2 linked regions of the Homo sapiens genome follow. The protein of the gene in region 1 purifies or fractionates together with the protein of each later gene. This does not show direct contact. Each region holds a gene or a part of one and is shown in the gene's direction. Other genes may lie near its edges.

Region 1 (9,280 bases):
TTCATTTTGTCCTGAAGTCACCCTTGATCATTTTTTGTAGGGTAGATGTAATAGTGACAAACACTCAGTCTTTGTTTATGGGAAGGTCTTCATTTCTTTATTTTTGAAGGGGAGTTTTGCCAGATATAGAATTCTTGGTTGCCATTTTTTCTCAGCTCTTTGAATGTACCACTCCAGCGCTTGGTGGTTTCCATGGTTTCTATTGAGAAATTGACTGTAATCTTACCGAGGATCCTGTTTACGTCATAAGTCATCTCCGTCTTGCTGTTTTTAGGATGCTGCCTTTGTCTTTCAACAGTTTGATTAATATGTGTTTGATGCCGGCTGCAATGGTTCACGCCTATAATCCCAACACTTTGGGAGGCTGAGGCAGAAGGACCCCTTGAGGTCAGGAGTATGAGACCAGCCTGGGCAACTTGGACCCTGTCTCTACAAAAAATTAAAAAATTAGTCAGACGTGCTGGTGCACACCTATGGTCCCAGCTTCTTGGAAGGCTGAGGTGGAAGGATTGCTTGACCCCAGGAGATTAAGGCTGCAGTGAGCCATGATCACACCACTGCACTCCAGCGTGGGTGACAGAATAAAACCCTGGCTCAAAAAATGTGTGTGTGTGTGTGTGTGTGTTTCAGTATGAATCTCTATTTTTTCAAATTTATTCTACTTGAGTTTGTTGAGCTTCTTGGATTTGTACATTTGTGCCTTTCATCAAATTTTGGGAAGTTTTTAGCCATTATTTCTTCAACCTTCTCACCCTTTTCTCTCTTTACATCTCTCTGGTTCTCCACATCCTATATATGTTGGTAGGTTCGATGGTATCCCAAAGGTCTCAGGCTCTGTTCATCTTTTTTAAAACTCACATTCTCTCTCTCTCTCTCTCTCTCTTTATCTTTGAGACAGGTTCTCACTCACTCTGTCACCTAGGCCGGAGTGCAGCAGAGTGATTGTGGCTTACTGCAGCCTTGACCTCCTGGGCTCAAGTGATCCTCCCACCTCAGCCTCCCAAATAGGGAGGCATGGCTAGAGACGTGCATCACCATGCCCAGCTAATTTTTTTAATTTTTTGTAGAGTCAGGATCTCACCATGTTTCCCAGGCTGGTCTTGAACTCCTGGTTGCAAGCAGTCCTCCTGCCTCAGCCTCCCAAAATGCTGGGATTATACATGAGCCATTGCACCTGGCATCTCTCTTTTTTCTGCTCCTCAGACTGGATAATATCGATTGTCCTATCTTCATGGTCACCAATTTTGTCTTCTGCCTGCTCAGATATGTTCTGAATGTTTCATTTCAGCTATTGTACTTTTCAACTCAAATTTTTTTATTTGCCTTCCTAAAGTTTCTGTCTCTTAATGTTTTCCATTTTTTGTATTTTTTTGATATGCCATAGTTGTACCTATTTTGCTGTTTTTCATTTGATGAAAATTTGTATTCATGGTTTCCTTTAGTTCTTTATACATATTTCTTTTACATCTTTTAGCAGATTTTAAATAGTTGACTTATTTTACTTGTCTAGTTAAGTCCAGTGTTTGAACTTCTGAAGGGACAATTTCTACCAGCTTCATTTTTCTTGTAATGGGCCCAACGTTTGTTTCCTTGCCTCCCTCATAATTATTTTGTTGAAACTAGGGTATTTGGAATATTATAATATAGCAATTTGGGAATCAGACTTTTCCCCATCTCCAGAGTTTGTTTTACTTGTTGTAGTTGGTATTGTATCTATAGAACATACAACAGTTCTAAAGTTAGTTGTGAAATAGAACTATTGTGTGTTCTAAAGTTGTAGAATATCATATATTGTAAACTCCTGTTAGAATATACAATAGTTCTATTTCAGAACTAACTTTGTAATGTCTGTATTTGTCATGTGTGGCCACCGAAGTCTCTTTTCTGATAGCGTAATGGTCATATAGTGATTTGAAGGCCTGGAACAAAAAAGGAAAAAACTTCTAGTCTCTTTACGTGGGCTCTGTGTGTACATAGGGACATGCCTTTAATACTTAGGTAGGCATTTAACTGTGCCTTGACCTTCATTTCTGGCTTGTGCAGAGCCTGAAGGTCACCAAAAGATGAGGGTTTTGTGCCTTCTCAGGTATTTTCTGGGCATGCTCCCAGCCCTGAGTATGTGCTTGGAATTACAGGTTCTTAAGAATATGAGGAAGATTTTCAAAGTCCTACTCCCCAAACATCTTTTTCCCCATTTTTCCTTTCAGGCTTTTCGGTTAGTCTTTTGTTTGCTTCTACTGTTTTCTCTTGCCTCAAGCAGTACTGACTAATACATTTACCTTTACATCTGTCGATCACGTGTGTTCCAGGTAACCAGCTCAGTCCTGAAAGAATTTGGAGTTAGATAAATAAAGACAACCCTTTGAGCCAGTCCTTCAGGGAACCACCAGACAGGTCAGGAAGAGCAACCACAGAGTAAGGTCTGTTCTGCTCCCTGCAAGTACTAGGAATGCAGGCTGTTGTCTTCAAGGTTGTAGAAAAAGCAGGGGAAAGAGGTCCATTTAAAGTATCATAAAGCTCTCTTACCCAGATTCAGCTGGGTTTTCTGAGAAGGCATTCTCCTGATTGCTGTGGACTTTTGATACATTTCAAGAATTCCGATAAAGTTGATTCGGACCGCTTTTGCCAGTTTACTCACTGTTTTTGTGGAGGGATGAACGTTTGGAATTCCGTCCTCCACCACTGTCACTGTCATCACTTCTTTCAAGTTTTCTTGAGCACCTCTGTGTTCCTAGGTCTGTGCAGTGACTTGGGAGTACAGTGATGAATGGGACCATATGGTCCCACCCTCATGGGCAGTCTCTAATTCCTGCCTTATGAACTGAAGATCTATTTCTTGTCCTGACTTTATATTCTTCATGGTTAAAAGTTTTGGGGCCTCTGAAGTGTGCATTTGAACTCAGGCATGGCCTTCTGGGGCTGTTTATGCCCTATCACCCTGAATATCTAGTTGAATATGCTTGTTGCATTTTTGTTCAGTGAGAGTTACCATATGCACTAGAATTAAGGTATAATTGGCAGGGCGTGGTGGCTCATGCCTGTAATCCCAGCACTTTGGGAGGCCAAGGTGGGTGGATCACGAGGCCAGGAGATCAAGAGATCAAGACCTGCCTGGCCAATATGGTGAAACCCCGTCTCTACTAAAAATACAAAAATTAGCCGGGCGTGGTTGTGTGCACCTGTAGTCCCAACTACTTGGGAGGCTGAGGCAGGAGAATCGCTTGAACCTGGAAGGCAGAGGTTGCAGTGAGCCGAGATCATGCCACTGCACTTCAACCCGGGCGACAGAGCAAGACTCCATCTCAAAATAAATAAAAAAAAGAAAAGAATTAAGGCATAATTTATTTCACTGCTCCTAAAGTCACACTTTTCCATCTTCATAAATGTTGGCTTTCTTTCATGGACTTGGTTGTCCCCAGCACTGTTACCTATATCATGTGTATTGTTTCCATAAATAGGGTGTCGTGTTAATAAACCCAGTCTGATATCCCAGTTGGAACAAGACAAGAAGGTGGTGACAGAGGAAAGAGGAATTCTACCAAGCACCTGTCCAGGTGAGCACCAGGTGGATATGAGCCCTTGTGAGGAATAGCTCTGGCCAGTGACTTGGGGGTTGGGAGTATTACATTAGTTCATGTCAATCAGGGAACTTTGTAAAATACCCTGTTCCTGACAAACATGCACGAGAACATTTGGTGTGAGCTTCCTCATGTCCTTTCTTTTCTCTCTAACTCCCTTGTCATCATCTCATACTTCACTTTGGGCTCAGGGAAGAAACAAAGATGCAACTCTTTTGAAAATTTCAGTCAAGTTCCTTTCCACTTTGCATTCCTGATCACTCCTCTTGTCAATCTGTGATCAATCTCAATTTGTCTAGAATCCTTTTTTAAAATTAATACCTAAAATTTTCATAACCAAATCCTCTTTGTTGCAAACATCCTCAAAAACCCTGATCCCTCAGAATCTGCCTTTACTCATGTGTACACTTTTCCATTTCTTTTCTCCATCAACCTAAATTTCTTTTCAATTTGTTTCAGATTTGGAGACTCTACTTAAAGCCAAATGGTTAACTCCTAAGAAGAATGTTTTCAGAAAAGAACAGTCTAAAGGTGTAAAAACGGTAAGACTAACATGGGTGATTTCTGGTTTTCTACAGTAGGAGAATGCCTTAAGTTTAGAAAGGGCACAAAATAACCAGGAGAGGCATTAAAGGAAAGTGTCATTTATAATTGAGAATGCTGTGTTCCTGGAGAGACACTGTGAAAATTATAAATATTTAGAGAAGTGTGAGTTAGCTCCAAACTTATTTCTTCACGGAGAGTTCCCACAAGTAAATATTTCCTATCTGTGGCTCAGATATTGACTGTTGGAACAAAACTTCATCCACACGTTATCAGAAAATGTTTTGTGCATCTGATAAGGACTTGTGGCAAAGCATCTATGTTTTTTAACTTTCTTAGAGCTAAAACTGGGCAGAAATCACATACAACCACTGAAAGTAGCCAAAATATCAATTATAATAATGTAACAGAATTCCTGGGAGAGAAGATTCCTAGGAGAACATTAAGTATTTCAAATATTATAAATTATAGTTATCATTCATCTCTTAATCCACAGGAAAGAAGTCATCGTGGAGTGAAACTCAATGAATGTAATCAGTGTTTTAAAGTCTTCAGCACGAAATCTAACCTAACTCAGCACAAGAGAATTCATACTGGAGAAAAACCCTATGACTGTAGTCAATGTGGGAAGTCCTTCAGTAGCAGATCTTACCTTACTATTCATAAGAGAATCCATAATGGGGAGAAACCCTATGAATGCAATCACTGTGGGAAAGCATTTAGTGATCCCTCATCCCTTAGACTGCATTTGAGAATTCACACTGGAGAAAAACCCTATGAATGTAACCAGTGTTTTCACGTTTTCCGCACCAGTTGTAACCTCAAAAGCCACAAGAGGATTCACACGGGGGAGAATCACCATGAATGTAATCAGTGTGGAAAAGCTTTCAGCACAAGGTCCTCTCTCACTGGGCACAATAGCATTCATACAGGGGAGAAACCTTATGAATGTCACGATTGTGGGAAAACCTTCAGGAAGAGCTCCTATCTGACACAGCACGTAAGAACTCATACTGGAGAAAAACCCTATGAATGTAACGAGTGTGGGAAATCCTTCAGCAGTAGCTTTTCTCTTACTGTGCACAAGAGAATACATACCGGAGAGAAACCCTACGAGTGCAGTGACTGTGGAAAAGCCTTTAATAATCTCTCAGCTGTGAAGAAACACTTAAGAACTCACACTGGAGAAAAACCCTATGAATGTAATCATTGTGGGAAATCCTTCACAAGTAACTCCTATCTTTCTGTGCACAAGAGAATACATAATAGATGGATATGAATTACTGCAGGAACTTCTGGAGGAAAGCACTCATTGATCTTTCATCCCTAAGATAGTTTGAGAGAGCTCACACTGGATATATAAGTTATTTGTTGCAGCATAACAAATGATCCCCGCAAATTTTGTGGCTTCAAACACGAAATGTTTATTCTCTAACAATTTCTACAGATCAGGAATTCAAGAACAGCTTATCTCTGTAGTTACACTGCAGGATCTCTCATGCCTTTACTTACAATCAAGATGTCAGCCAAAGCTATAGTCATCTAACATCTTTACTGATGAACAGTCCACTTCCAAGATGACTTATTCACATGCCTGGAAAGTTGATGTTGGTTGTTGTCAGGGGACCTTCAGTCATTACCATGTAGGCCTCTTTACAAGGCCCAGCTCCTTGACAATTTGGCAATAAGTTCTCGCCAAGGTTAGTGATCCAAGAGAGGACCAATACAGAGGCCAAAATGGCTTTTATGACCTATCCTCAGGAGGACTGCTAAGCTTTCACTTATTTCCTATTGTGTTGGTCTCACAACACACCAATCCTGATACAATGTGAGAGACTGCAGAAGGTATGAATACCAGGAAACAGATAACTCAGAAGCATCTGGGAAATTTGCCATGGAATTAATGAAGAAAAGCCCTCAGCACATCATCCTTCTACTCTAATCAATATGAAATAGCATTCAGTAACTCCTATTAATTCACTCTGAAGAGAAACCTTTTGAGGACAATCTGTATGGTAAAGCTCTCAGCTCGAATTCTCACCTTCATGGGCCCAGAAGATTATGTACTGAGAGAATCCTGAAGAATGGAACAGCTGTAGAAAGCCTTCAGTGCTATCAGCAGGGATTCATGTGACAGCTCACACTAAGGGAGAAAACCTGTGAAGGTCTCAGAAGGCTTCAGTGACAGTCATCCCTTAAGACGCACTGGAAATCACACAATGGAACAACACTCAGAAATGCGGAATACCCTACAGCAAAAGTGTTCACATTACTGAGCAAACTATAGTGTGGTATTCTGCAGTGACTATGGGAAAGCCTTGAATGTTCTATCGGTTTTTAAGGGACTTGAGAATTAATTCTGGAGAGAATGCCCCATTGAACATCATCAATATTGGAGAGCTTTCTGTTTTTCTACATTTGTTAGGAAACTTGTGAGCATTCACACTACAGAGAAACTTGAAATATAAAGAAGAAGAGAAAGCCTTCAGTGATGCCTCTGTGTTAGGGAAAATATGGAACTTCTCCCTGGATGCAAAACCTATGAGTATATTAATATTGGAAAATTTTTCAGTGATTCTTCTCTTTCTTGTATATGAGAGAACTTATATGGAGAAACCCCTAGGAATGTAATCAGTGTTAGGATGCCTCAGCCTGAACTCTTCACTGAGTGGCCACAATTTTCACTGGGAACAAAAAGTATAATCACTGTTTTGAGTGTGGGATATCCTTTATCAGTGTCTCATCTGTAGATTGGACTGCTGGCTCATTAATTTTTTTAGTCTTTTTTTCTTTTAATATAAACATTTGTGTATAGCTGTTCCCTAAAATAAACATTAACATATTTCATAATTTTAATGCAATGTATTTATTATAATTAATTTGCTTGTTAAAGACATCCACACATTGCATATTCAAAAAGTTATTTCCAAATACCTTCTGAGTGATTCAGTTTATCATAATGGAAATTAGTATTTATAAACACATTTTTCTAATGTAGTGGTATTTTTGGCAGAGTACATGAGCTTTATGATACTGATTATTTTCTCTCTATCTTGGTATGCCAAATACTGTTGGTTTCTTTCCCAGTGTCCGTTCTCTTCAGTTTATTCGTTTAAAGAAACAAACATGTTGTTCAAGTTGTCTGTGAACAATATCGAAAGTTCTCAATCTTATAGTTTTTCCTGAAGCCCAGGCGGGTTTTTTCGCACTCCCCTGGCAATGAGAAGTAAGTCGAAGTCACTGTGTGGAACATCTCCTGGCTTGTTCTCCTCACATATTTTCCATTCACCTCACCCATTCTGTCTCTTGGAAAGTGGCCTCAAGGTCTAGAGTTTGAAGAGCTTCTTTTTGACCACAATGACAGAAACCAAAGTGCAGCCAAAAATCACAATGCTTTGGGCTCTCCAGGAGCCTCCGATTGGCTGCATCTGCTCTGGACTCCTTATTCTTATACTTCTTATGTGACTAAAAGAAACCCCTAGGCTGGGTGTGGTGGCTCACGCCTTTAATCCCAGCACTTTTGAGAGGCTGAGGTGGGTGGATCATGAGGTCAACAGATTGAGACCATCCTGGCCAACGTGGTGAAACCCTATCTCTACTAAAAGTATAAAGATTAGCTGGGTGTGGTGGTGCACACCTGTATTCCCAGCTACTCGGGAAACTGAGACAGGAGAATTGCCTGAACCTGGGAGGTAGAGGTTGCAGTGAGCCAAGATGGCGCCAGTGCACTCCAGCCTGGCAACAGAGCGAGACTCCATCTCAAAATAAACAAATAAATATTTTTAAAAAAAGAAACCCCTAACTGATTGAAGCCAACATGATCTGTTGTTTGTTTTTGAGGTGGTGTTCTGTTAACTTCCAGCAGGATGCAGAATCTAACTGGTAAACCTATAAATTGGTCAAGTTTTACCCATGTTGTTTCTTTGAAAACAATGTATATTCTCTAATATTTGGATATAGGGTATATGAACATTAATGCAACTTAATTGTATTTCCAAGTACAGTACGTATGTTCAGATTTCTTTTTCTAACCTTATTTAGTGATAGAGGTGTGGTAAACTCTTCCATTATGTTTATGTATTAACACTGTAATTTTGTCATTTTTATATATTTTGACATTATGTAACTAGATGCATACAGGATTAGGTATTCTGTATTCCTTTTTATGTGGAGATGATATTTTTACATAGCAAAGTATTGTAATGCATTAATAATAAATGGTCAAACATTTATTTATTTATTTATTTATTTTAGATGGAGTTTCACTCTTGTCATCAAGGGTGGAGTGCAATGGTGCGATCTCGGCTCACTGCAACCTTGGCCTCCCAGGTTCCAGCAATTCTCCTGCCTCAGCCTCCTGAGTAGCTGGGATTACAGGCACCTGCCACCACGCCCAGGTAATTTTTTTATATTTTTAGTAGAGATGGGGTTTCACCATGTTGGCCAGGCTAGTCTCGAACTCCTGATGGTCAGACATTTATATTGCACTTCCCATAGATCAGGCCCCCTTCTAAATGACATATAAGTATTAACTCAGTATGCATTATAAACTTAAGTATGTAATGTTATTATCCCCAGTTTACAGATGAGAAAACTGGTATGATACACTTAAGTTACTTGCCTGCATTCACTGACTGGTAAATGGTAGAGCCAAGATCTGAACCCAGACAGTCCATGCACTTAACCACTACCCTATTAACGGAGTATGTTCTGTGTGCCAGGCAAAGTTTTGCCATTGAAATACTTCACCTAATGGAGGAGGAACAGATTATAGAAAAATCAAGAAAATATGGTATTATAGAGTTATAGGAAAAAAAAGCATTTTAGGAGAGTTAAGGGGGGTTGGGAATAATAATTTTATATAACTAGGAAAAGAAAGCCTCTTGGTAAGGAGCATTTGAGCGGAGATCTCAACAAGTTGGGACAGTGAGTCATATGAATTTGTCTTGCAAGAGTAGTGTTGGCATGCAAAGGCCCACAACAAGGAGGCCAATACAGCTGGAGTGGAACAAAGGGGTGATGAGGGAGCAGTAAAAGATGATGTGGTCAGAGACATGGTAGATCCTGATCTTGTTGGGTTTTCTGAGACATTGTTAGGACTTTTCCTTATTTCAGTGAGTTGGCACATCAGTCAGGGTCCCAGCAGGAACTCAGGTTGA
Region 2 (9,280 bases), on another chromosome or scaffold:
ATTACCATGCCTGGCTAATTTAAAGAAACTTTCTTTGGAGGTGGGGTCTCTCTGTGTTGCCCAGGCTGGTCTTAAACCGTGGGCCTCAGACCATCTTTCTGTCTCTGCCCCTGCCAAAGTGTTGGGATCACAGGTGTGAGCCATTGTGCCCTATCCTTATTTGAGTGCTTTTTAATTTTACTGAGAAACTGTTTTTTACTTTTAACTAGCGTATTTACTCAAATGTTTAAAATTTCATGCAAAATTAGTGATGTGGCTTGGGACTTTTTCTTGTTATTTTGCCAGATTTATAAGCAGATATTTGTGAGATTCTTATTCTTAATGATTACAGAGATGCAAATCTGTCTTCAGGGGAAAAAATCCATTGCTCAGTTGCTCAGTTATTTTGAGGAATTGGTACTTTCATGAGTACCAGTAGAGTAGTGCCATATCCTGTCCTGTGTGTTCATTATGTCTGTAGCTAACTCTGGAAGCATTTGCATTATTCTCCTAGAACCTGATGACCACCTCACAGTGGCTGAGTCACTGAAGAGGGAATTTGACAACCCGGACACTGCAGACCTGAAGTTTCTAGTTGATGGAAAGTACATTTATGCACATAAAGTCCTTCTCAAGATTCGGTAAGGAATCATTTATTTGAGAATTGAGAAAAGTAATTCGTTCAACAATTATATTCTAAGTGTCCAACTATATTAGGCACCTCAGTAATCAAGAAAAATTGTAAGGCTGTTTTTGCTCTTACAAGCATACAGTGGAGCGGGGAGAAATATACATGAAACAAGAAATAACACAGGTTGTGTGGTTCCGGGAACCAGTACCATAGGCGTTCCTTAGGCTTGAAAAGTGGCGTGGTCACCTTGGCAGCAGGGAGCAGCCAGCGCACGCTCCAAGTGTGTCCTGTGCTCTGAACACTGTATTGATACTTGGACGTCCATCAGTTACCGTTTCTGCCTGGGAATCAAGCTCAGCTCTTAATAATCACCTTCTTATAATCACTTGTGGCGTACTTTTAGATGGTTTAAGAAAGAGAAGATCAAGGCCTTTCCAGACCAAAAAGGTCTATAGTGAGGCTAGCACAGAGATTTTAAAAAATCACATTTGTGAATGTTTTTGAGCAATGAGCTGTGTGCATTTCAAATGTGCAGTTTGATGAGTGCTGACACATGTCTACGCCTGTGAAACCACTGCCCCACATCCAGACAGAGAACATTCCCATCACCCTTCAAAGACCCCTCATGTCCTAGCCCTGGGTGACCGCAGCTCCTTCTGTCACTGTAGCTGAGTTAGCATTTTCTAGAGTGTATTTAGATGGGATGATACAGGATGCATTCATTTGTGCTTGGCTTCTTTCTTTTACATGATGATTTTGAAATTCATTATGTTGTTGTGTAACAGATATTTAAATCCTACTGCAGTGAGTCACACACTCAACACAGCATTTTAGTCTCAAGTTCCTCTTTAGTAAGATCAAGCTGTGCAGCGTTTGCTCACTCTCTCTATATCACATCAACCTGCATGAAAGAAGGGGGGTGGATTTGTTTGCTGTAACACAGTACTATGGCCCGGGTGGCTTAAGCAACATAAAGTTCTGGAGGCTGGAAATCCCAGATCAAAAGTGTCACCTGGATGGGTTTCTTGTGAGGCTGTGAGTGAGAATCTGTTCCTGCCTCTTTCCTAGCTGCTGGGGATTTGCAGACAGTCTTTGGCCTTCCTTGGCATGTGGCTGCTTAACTCCAGTCAGCATGTGGCATTCTCCCTTTGTGCATGTCTGTGTCCAAATTTCCCCCCACCTTATTTTTTTTAGATGGCAGAGTCTTTCTCTATTGCCCAGGCTGGAGTGCAGTGGCCTGATCTCGGCTCACTGCAACCTCCTCCTCCCAGGTTCAAGTGATTCTCCTGCCTCAGCCTCCTGAGTAGCTGGGATTACAGGCGCACACCACCATGCCTGGCTAATTTTTGTATTTTTAGTAGAGATGGGGTTTCACCATATTGGCCAGGCTGGTCTCAAACTCCTGACCTCGTGATCCACCCGCCTCGGCCTTCCAAAGTGCTGGGATTACAGGCGTGAGCCACCGCGCCCTGTCCAAATTTCCCCTTTTTATAAAGATGCCAGTCATATTGGATTAGGGCCCACCCTAGTGACCTTCTTATAACTTGATTACCTCTTTAAAGGCTCTCTTTCCTAGTAAGGTCACATTTTGAGGTATTGGCCATTAGGACTTCAACACAGGAATTTTTAGAGGACATCATTCAACCCGTAATGGAGTGAGGAAACAGAATTACTTAGATTTTATAAAAATAAACCCACTGATTTCTCTAAATGCTGACAGTGGTTGTGGTGTGAGAGAGATGCCAGGGAGCCCAGCTCTGTCCCCATTAGCACGGCCATTGGGGCTGCTTCCCAGGCCACCCCTGGCAGCAGGTTTGTATATACAGCCTTGCTGAATAGATGATTGTTTGAAAACCCTGGCCAGCAAAGAAAGTGAGGAGCCACAGCAGGGACGTGCCAGCGTGCACCTTCGAGAGAAGAACGTGGTCCTCACAGAGGCCATCTGTCCTGGCTGGGAAGCTAGGACCTGACATACTGCTTTTTTCCTTCAGATGTGAGCATTTTCGTTCGTCATTGGAAGATAACGAGGATGATATTGTAGAAATGAGTGAATTTTCATATCCTGTTTACCGGGCCTTCCTGGAATACCTATACACAGACAGCATCAGCCTTTCTCCTGAGGAGGCAGTAGGTAATTGCCAAAGACTTCCAAAAACTTGGCAAAATGTTGAGGAACTGACAAGGTGGTTTCTATAGAACCTAAAAGAAAGTCACTGTGAGGGTAATTACAGAAGTATTTCTTTTTGTGTGTGTTGAATCCAAACACGTTTCCCTTGTTACTACTTTATTACAAAGGTTGACTGGACAGATAAGAGAGAGAAGAATCAAATCATCACCACCGTGGAGCATTGCAGGCAGCAGCATGGAGGAAGGGACAGAGACTGAGGGCCATGCAGCAGATCCCCGTGTCTCCACCAGCAGGGCCCAGGAATTCCACTTATTTCAGACTGTGGGCCTGAGTCAGTCAAGTCTGTGCCCAGTGGCTTAGGAGGCTGGGAAAATGGGCATTTCCAGAGGGCCGTAGCTTGGCTAAAAATTCTGTGGTTTCAGTAGAAAGGAAGAATGGATGTGTGTGTGTGTGTGAGAGAGAGAGAGAGAGAGAGAGAGAGTGTGTGTGTGTGTGTGTGTGTGTGTGTGTGTTGGGGTGGGGGTCGGGAGAGAGGCAACTAGCAGCTTCTGCCACAGGAGAGATGTGATCTGTGTTTAAAACATCAGTTATTATATTGGTTCAGGTGTGAGATGATGGTCTCCTGGGTTGGGGTTGTATAGCAGTGGAAGTATTGAAAAGAGATCAGATTCTAGATATATTTTAAAGAGGTTGCTGATGGGATTTGTTGATAGATGGGATGAGAGGTGTGAGTTGAGAGAGAAGGATGGCTGCACTGAGGTACTTGGCCTGGGTAGCTGCCTTAATGGCACTGAGGTGAGGAAGATAGAGAACAACAGGCTTGCTCTGGACTTTGAAAGTCAAAGGAGTTTGAGCTTCCCATTAGATACCCAAGTGATAATTTTTTTTTTTTTGAGACAGAGTTTCACTCTTGTTGCCCAGGCTGGAGTGCAATGGCACGATCTCCGCTCACCACAACCTCCGCCTCCCGGTTTCAAGCGATTCTCCTGCCTCAGCCTCTCGAGTAGCTGGGATTACAGGCATGCACCACCACGCCTGGCTAATTTTGTATTTTTAGTAGAAACGAGGTTTCTCCGTGTTGGTCAGGCTGGTCTTGAACTCCCGACCTCAGGTGATCCGCCCATCTTGGCCTCCCAAAGTGCTGGGATTACAGGCGTGAGCCACTGCGCCCGGCCGCGAGTGGCAGTTTTTTATCGGCCCACCACTAACATTTGTGGGGCTGTAGCCAAGACTCCAAATGGAGACCTATGTTCCATATGTCTAAAAACTTAAAGTTATATGTCAAGCTAGTGAACTTCAGATAAAAATATGTCCAATCCTCCCACCTTGAAAAATGTAATTTCATTAAGAACTGAAAGGACAGGTTTCAATTTTAGTTGACATTTAGAGTTGCAGGACTTCTTGTGCCAGAACCCAATGGCACAGGCAGGACAGACCCCTCCTCCAGCAGAAGGGTGTGTGGGCACCCTAGCTTGCATTCCAAGCTCTATCCACCCCCAACCCAGGTTACCCTTTTGGGCCAGGGGGTCTGCACATTGGTGGTGGGGTCTAAGGGAGGAAATACCCACACATGTGGCCTCAAGGCCAATTATGCAGGCAGTCCCAGGTTCCCAGGTACCCAAAGTGTGGTCTAGAAGTGGGCATGTGGCTCCTTAGCCACCCTGTGCTGAAGGTGTGCGTGGAGGAGGCGCAGAGCTGGGGCTTGGGGCAGAGTCCTCTCTTAGGGCAGTGCAGCTTGCATGTGTGTCTGAAGCTTGGGGCCAAAAACAATGAAGCCATTCACAACTCAAGATTTCAGTGTCCTCCAGTGGGCTATCTGTCTTTCCTCTATAACTTTGATAATATTTGTTATTAAAAAAGCAAGTTTCCAACCAAAGTCTACCACATGTATAAGATTTATTAGCAGATAGACACAAAAACAATTAATATGGTAAAATTGATGAAATCCCTGCTCTTTATACTTCGTACACTCTATTAAGTACCTTGCATGAAAAGTTAGCTTGAGGTGGACATGACAGTGTTCTAGTAGCCGGATTCAGCTAGCCTTTTGATCCTGGCTACCACTCATTTCAGCAATGACAAACTAATTCTGACATTCTTTATGCTAATTACAAATCCTGTAATGAAGATTCAGAAAAACAAATAGGATCTTTCAGATGCTGATTGACTGCTTCAATTAGAGTACTTCCTATCATTCCTTGGGGTAGATTAAAATTAATTTACATATGTCACCTCACCCAGTCTACGTTGAATTACTTGAAAATAGGTGACAGGTAATATAACAGGACTCACCTGCATATATAGATGATATTTAAAACCCTGGGGCTGGGGTTTTGGGAAGTAAGTGAGGAAAGTGTCTGAGGATTTAACCCTGGGGCACTCAAACATTTGGAAGTCAGGAAAAATGATCCAGCCTAGAGAACTGAGGAGCAACTAATTAAAGAGAAGAAAAATGCAAGCAAGTGACAAAGTGTCCTAAGGAGAGCATTATCAACCATATCAAATTCTGTGTAAATGTCGAGTAAGAGGAAACCAGAGAATATTGCACCCTCAAAGCCACTGTGACTGCCACAGGTGTGACCACCAAGGGTGTGACTGCAGTAGTGGTGGGGATGGGGTTCTGCTTGTAATGGCTTGAGGTCAGAATGGGAGGTGGGAAAATGGAGACAGCAGATACAGATAGCTCTGTCTAGGAGTTTTGCTGTAGAGAGGAGCAGTGGGATAGGGTAACAGGAGGAAGACACGTGTCCATGAAAGGGTCTCCCCTCCCCTCCTCTCCCCTCTCCTCCTCTCCCCTCCCCTCCTCTCCCCTCCCCTCCTCTCCCCTCCCCTCTTCTCTTCTCCCCTCCCTTCCCCTCCCCTCCCTCTCCTGTCCTCTCTTCTTTTCTTCTCTTTTGTTTTCTTTTCTTCTTTTCTTTTCTTTCTTTTCACGGCGGGCACTCTTACAGCATGTGTGTGTGCTCCTGGGAGTGGCCCAGGAGAAGCTGACATTGAGATTGCAGGGGAAGGGGTCATTCAAGGCGCACATGCTTTTTTCCTAGGAAAAAAATATTAAAGCTATTTTCCCTGTGCTCCTGTTTTTCAACAGCTAATGATTTGTGTATCATGTTTGCTCAGCTTGGCTGCCATCCTGGGTAGAGCCCCACACTGAAGTGTAAGTGTCAGTCAGCATCAGTCTATGCAGTGCTTCACTGAGGATTATATCTAAAATAGTGTCAAAATCATCTCTGAGTGGCTGAGTGAGCAACTGTAAATCAGGATGCTTGAAATCACTCCCCCTAATAAACACCTCTTTCCGCCAGGACTGCTAGACTTGGCTACATTTTATAGAGAAAATCGTTTGAAAAAGCTCTGCCAACAAACTATCAAGCAAGGCATCTGCGAGGAGAATGCCATCGCTCTGCTCTCGGCTGCGGTGAAGTATGATGCACAGGTAAGGAAAGCTTGCTTCCAGCTGCCGGCCTCCTGGAGAAATGGAACCCAGGTGTCTGCCTCGTACCTTAAACTAAAAGAAAGTCTGGGTAGAGGAAATATTTAATATTTTTTAAAAAATGAAGTAACAAGAGTACTAGACAACGTATAAGCAAGTATTTATATAATGTTGGGATGGACATCAAAGGCAGAAGCCATAAAGGATTTATAGCTCTGATTTAAAAAGATAAGAAACTTTTATCCACTTAAAAATACCATAGAGAAACTTACAAAGTAATGAGACACTGGGAAAAATACTTGCAACATATAATGAAGTCTGTTTACCAGAGTGAAAAACAAAAAGACAATAGGAACAGTTTGGTTGAAAGAAATGGACCAAAGAACAAATGGCTCTATAAATAGACAAAAAACATAAATGAAAACAAGGTATAACTTTTCACCTGTCAAAGCAGGAATATATTTTTAGAGATAATGTATAGGATCAGAATAATGGTGTTCTCCTAAACTGCTGATGAGAGTACAAATTGGTATGGAGAACAATTTGGTATAATATGTATTAAGCACCTTAAATTAAAGACATAATTCTTCAAGGAATTCACTCACAAGTATTTATCTTGAGGAATTAATCATGGATTTGCACAAAGACTTAGCTTCAAAGGTGTTTACTTCAGCAGTTTATAATTTTGAAAAATCAGAAAAAGGTTAGTGTGAATAGTGGAGGCTTGTTTATAAAATGTTAATATCAAGAAATTATGCAGCTATTCAAGATATATCACTAAGTGAAAAACTTATCCTATTTTTATTTTTTGAAAAAGTATAAATAGCTGAATAAAAAACTAAAATTCATTATCTACATAGAAAAAAAGACTGAAAACTATGCTTAGTGGTTATCATTGAATGGTGGGATTGTGGGTGATTTTTATTTTCTTCTCTTTGCTTATTTTTTTTTAACTTTTACAGTGACCATGTATTGTTATGATAATAAAGAAAGGAAAGAAAACCAATCTTAGAACCAAATCTTTAGGAAACAGGCTGTAACATCTTCGAGTCAGTTTCCTTTTGGTATAAGGATATCCTCTCCTTTGGTCAAAGAAAACAGAGACATTTTAGTAGATGAAAGGTTATAACTTTTTTTCTGTTTACATAAATAATACTATGCTTATTAAAGAAAATTTGTAAAAGACAAAAAGTGAGGAAGGTAATGACTCATCAACCAGAGAACATTAGCACTTTCATATAACAGCTTCTGAGTTTTTGTTTTATGTCACATTATATATTTGTAAATACTTGAAACCTAGATTTTTTTTCACTTAACATTAAAAAAAAAGTACTACCTCAAAACAATGACATTTAACAGCACAGTGAATGTTTTATATCAAGGCAATAACATATTGGGCACTTACAACACAGAATGTTTCATGGTCAGACAAAATCCATGCACTTTTCCTAGTCCATTCTTGAGCATCACAGTGATGAGCCACGGTGATGGAGGGCCATCTCAGATGTCAAGATGGTGGCACGTGGTGTTTGCATCTGAATCAGGCTTCATTTTTAATACTTTTTTATATTCTCTATTTATGTGAATTATTTGTCTGGCTACCTTCCAGCTCTCTGTTTTCTAGAAAGTAAGCTCTTTGAGGCATGGCAGGGACTTTGTTTTGCTCACAACCATATCCCCAGCGCCTAGGACGGTGTCTGACACAGAGTAGGTACCTACTAAATACCCCTTTCATGGATGTTCAGTTTTGCCTATAGAGATGCACTGTTGTACTACAGCCTGTCCAGCTAATTGCTGTACCCTAAATTAGTATAATAGACTATAAGTAAAATAGACTGTATATGTACTTAATGTAAAATACAAGCTTTCGTAAATAAAGAACAGTGCTGTATTTGATTTGCCTGGCTCAAATAAGCAAGAAATGGGCTCTTTCAGCAAATTATTATCCCTCATGCTGGACTGTCACTTAGTACATAATTAATATGAGCCAGGGATTATTCTAAGCACAGTTCATGTTTCATTTACTCCTCAAAACAACCTTATATGACATAGGCATTATTATATTAGATCCAGTTTATAAATGAGAAAACTGAAGCTTGGAAAGATTAAGTAATCTGAGTAAACTAGTAAACTGCAAAACTGGGATACAGTCCAAGATTGGGCACATTTTAAAACCGCATGTTTAACTACAATTCTCCATTGTCCTCAGTATTTTGAAATCAGGAGTATTTATGCATGGATTCAACAAATATTCACTGAGTGCCTGCTACATGCCTGGCACTGCCCTACGCACTGGGGTACTGCAAATGAACAAAACAATCCAAAATCTCTGCTCTCATGGGAATTTCTGGTGAGGGGAGATAGGTGATCAATAAATGAATAGGATATATAGTATGTCAGATGGTGACAAGTGATATGGAAAGAAGTAAGACAGGGAAGACAGCCTAGGGAATGCCATCCTGAGATGAAAGTTGAAATTTTAAATAGAATGGTCAGGGAGGCAAGACATCAGTGAGCAGGTGACTCAAGCAGAGACCTGAAGGAGGTGTGGGTGGTGTGTTCTGGGAAAAGCAAGCCCGGTGTGGAGGGAGCACAGTGGGGAGGGAAGTAGCTGATGAGGCAGGGAGATGGTGCGGTGGAGGTGCACAGTGGCGTGTGTGGGAGGAGGCAGGGCCTGCAGAGTCCATAGGCAAGTTTCAGGAATCAGAGTTCCAAGGTGAGTGGCCATCAGAGGGTTTGGAGAGGAGCAGATATGATGGGCATTTGAAGTAATCCTCCTGCCTCCTGGCTGCTGTGTTGAGGAGGGAGGGAGGGAGGTAGGGAGAGAGAGAGAGGGTGAGAGAGAGAAGAGAAGAGAGAGAGAGAGAGAGAGAGAGAGTGTGTGTGTGTGTGTGTGTGTGTGTGGAGAGAGAGAGAGGGTGAGAGAGAGAAGAGTGTGTGTGTGTGTGTGTGTGTGTGTGTGTGTGTGAAGGAGGGTACTTAGGAGGCTGTATAATCCAGTAAGTGATGATGGTGGATTGGTCCAAGTTATCACCTGTGGGGATGGTAAAAAGTGGTTAAGATTTTGAATACATTTTGAAAGTAGAGCCAACAGGATGTGCGGATGGATTAG

The links.
Region 2: the proteins of ZNF558 (region 1) and RCBTB2 purify together in Homo sapiens (affinity purification with mass spectrometry; 2 studies listed by BioGRID and IntAct, with this or other methods). This does not show direct contact.

Annotation. Positions count from the first base shown.
Region 1 is NC_000019.10:8,807,401-8,816,680, reverse strand, and holds part of ZNF558 (zinc finger protein 558), read left to right. Parts: intron 1-3,458; coding exon 3,459-3,554; intron 3,555-4,037; coding exon 4,038-4,120; intron 4,121-4,617; coding exon 4,618-5,400; 3' UTR 5,401-9,280. UniProt on the Homo sapiens protein: May be involved in transcriptional regulation.
Region 2 is NC_000013.11:48,493,082-48,502,361, reverse strand, and holds part of RCBTB2 (RCC1 and BTB domain-containing protein 2), read left to right. Parts: intron 1-493; coding exon 494-620; intron 621-2,601; coding exon 2,602-2,741; intron 2,742-6,040; coding exon 6,041-6,171; intron 6,172-9,280.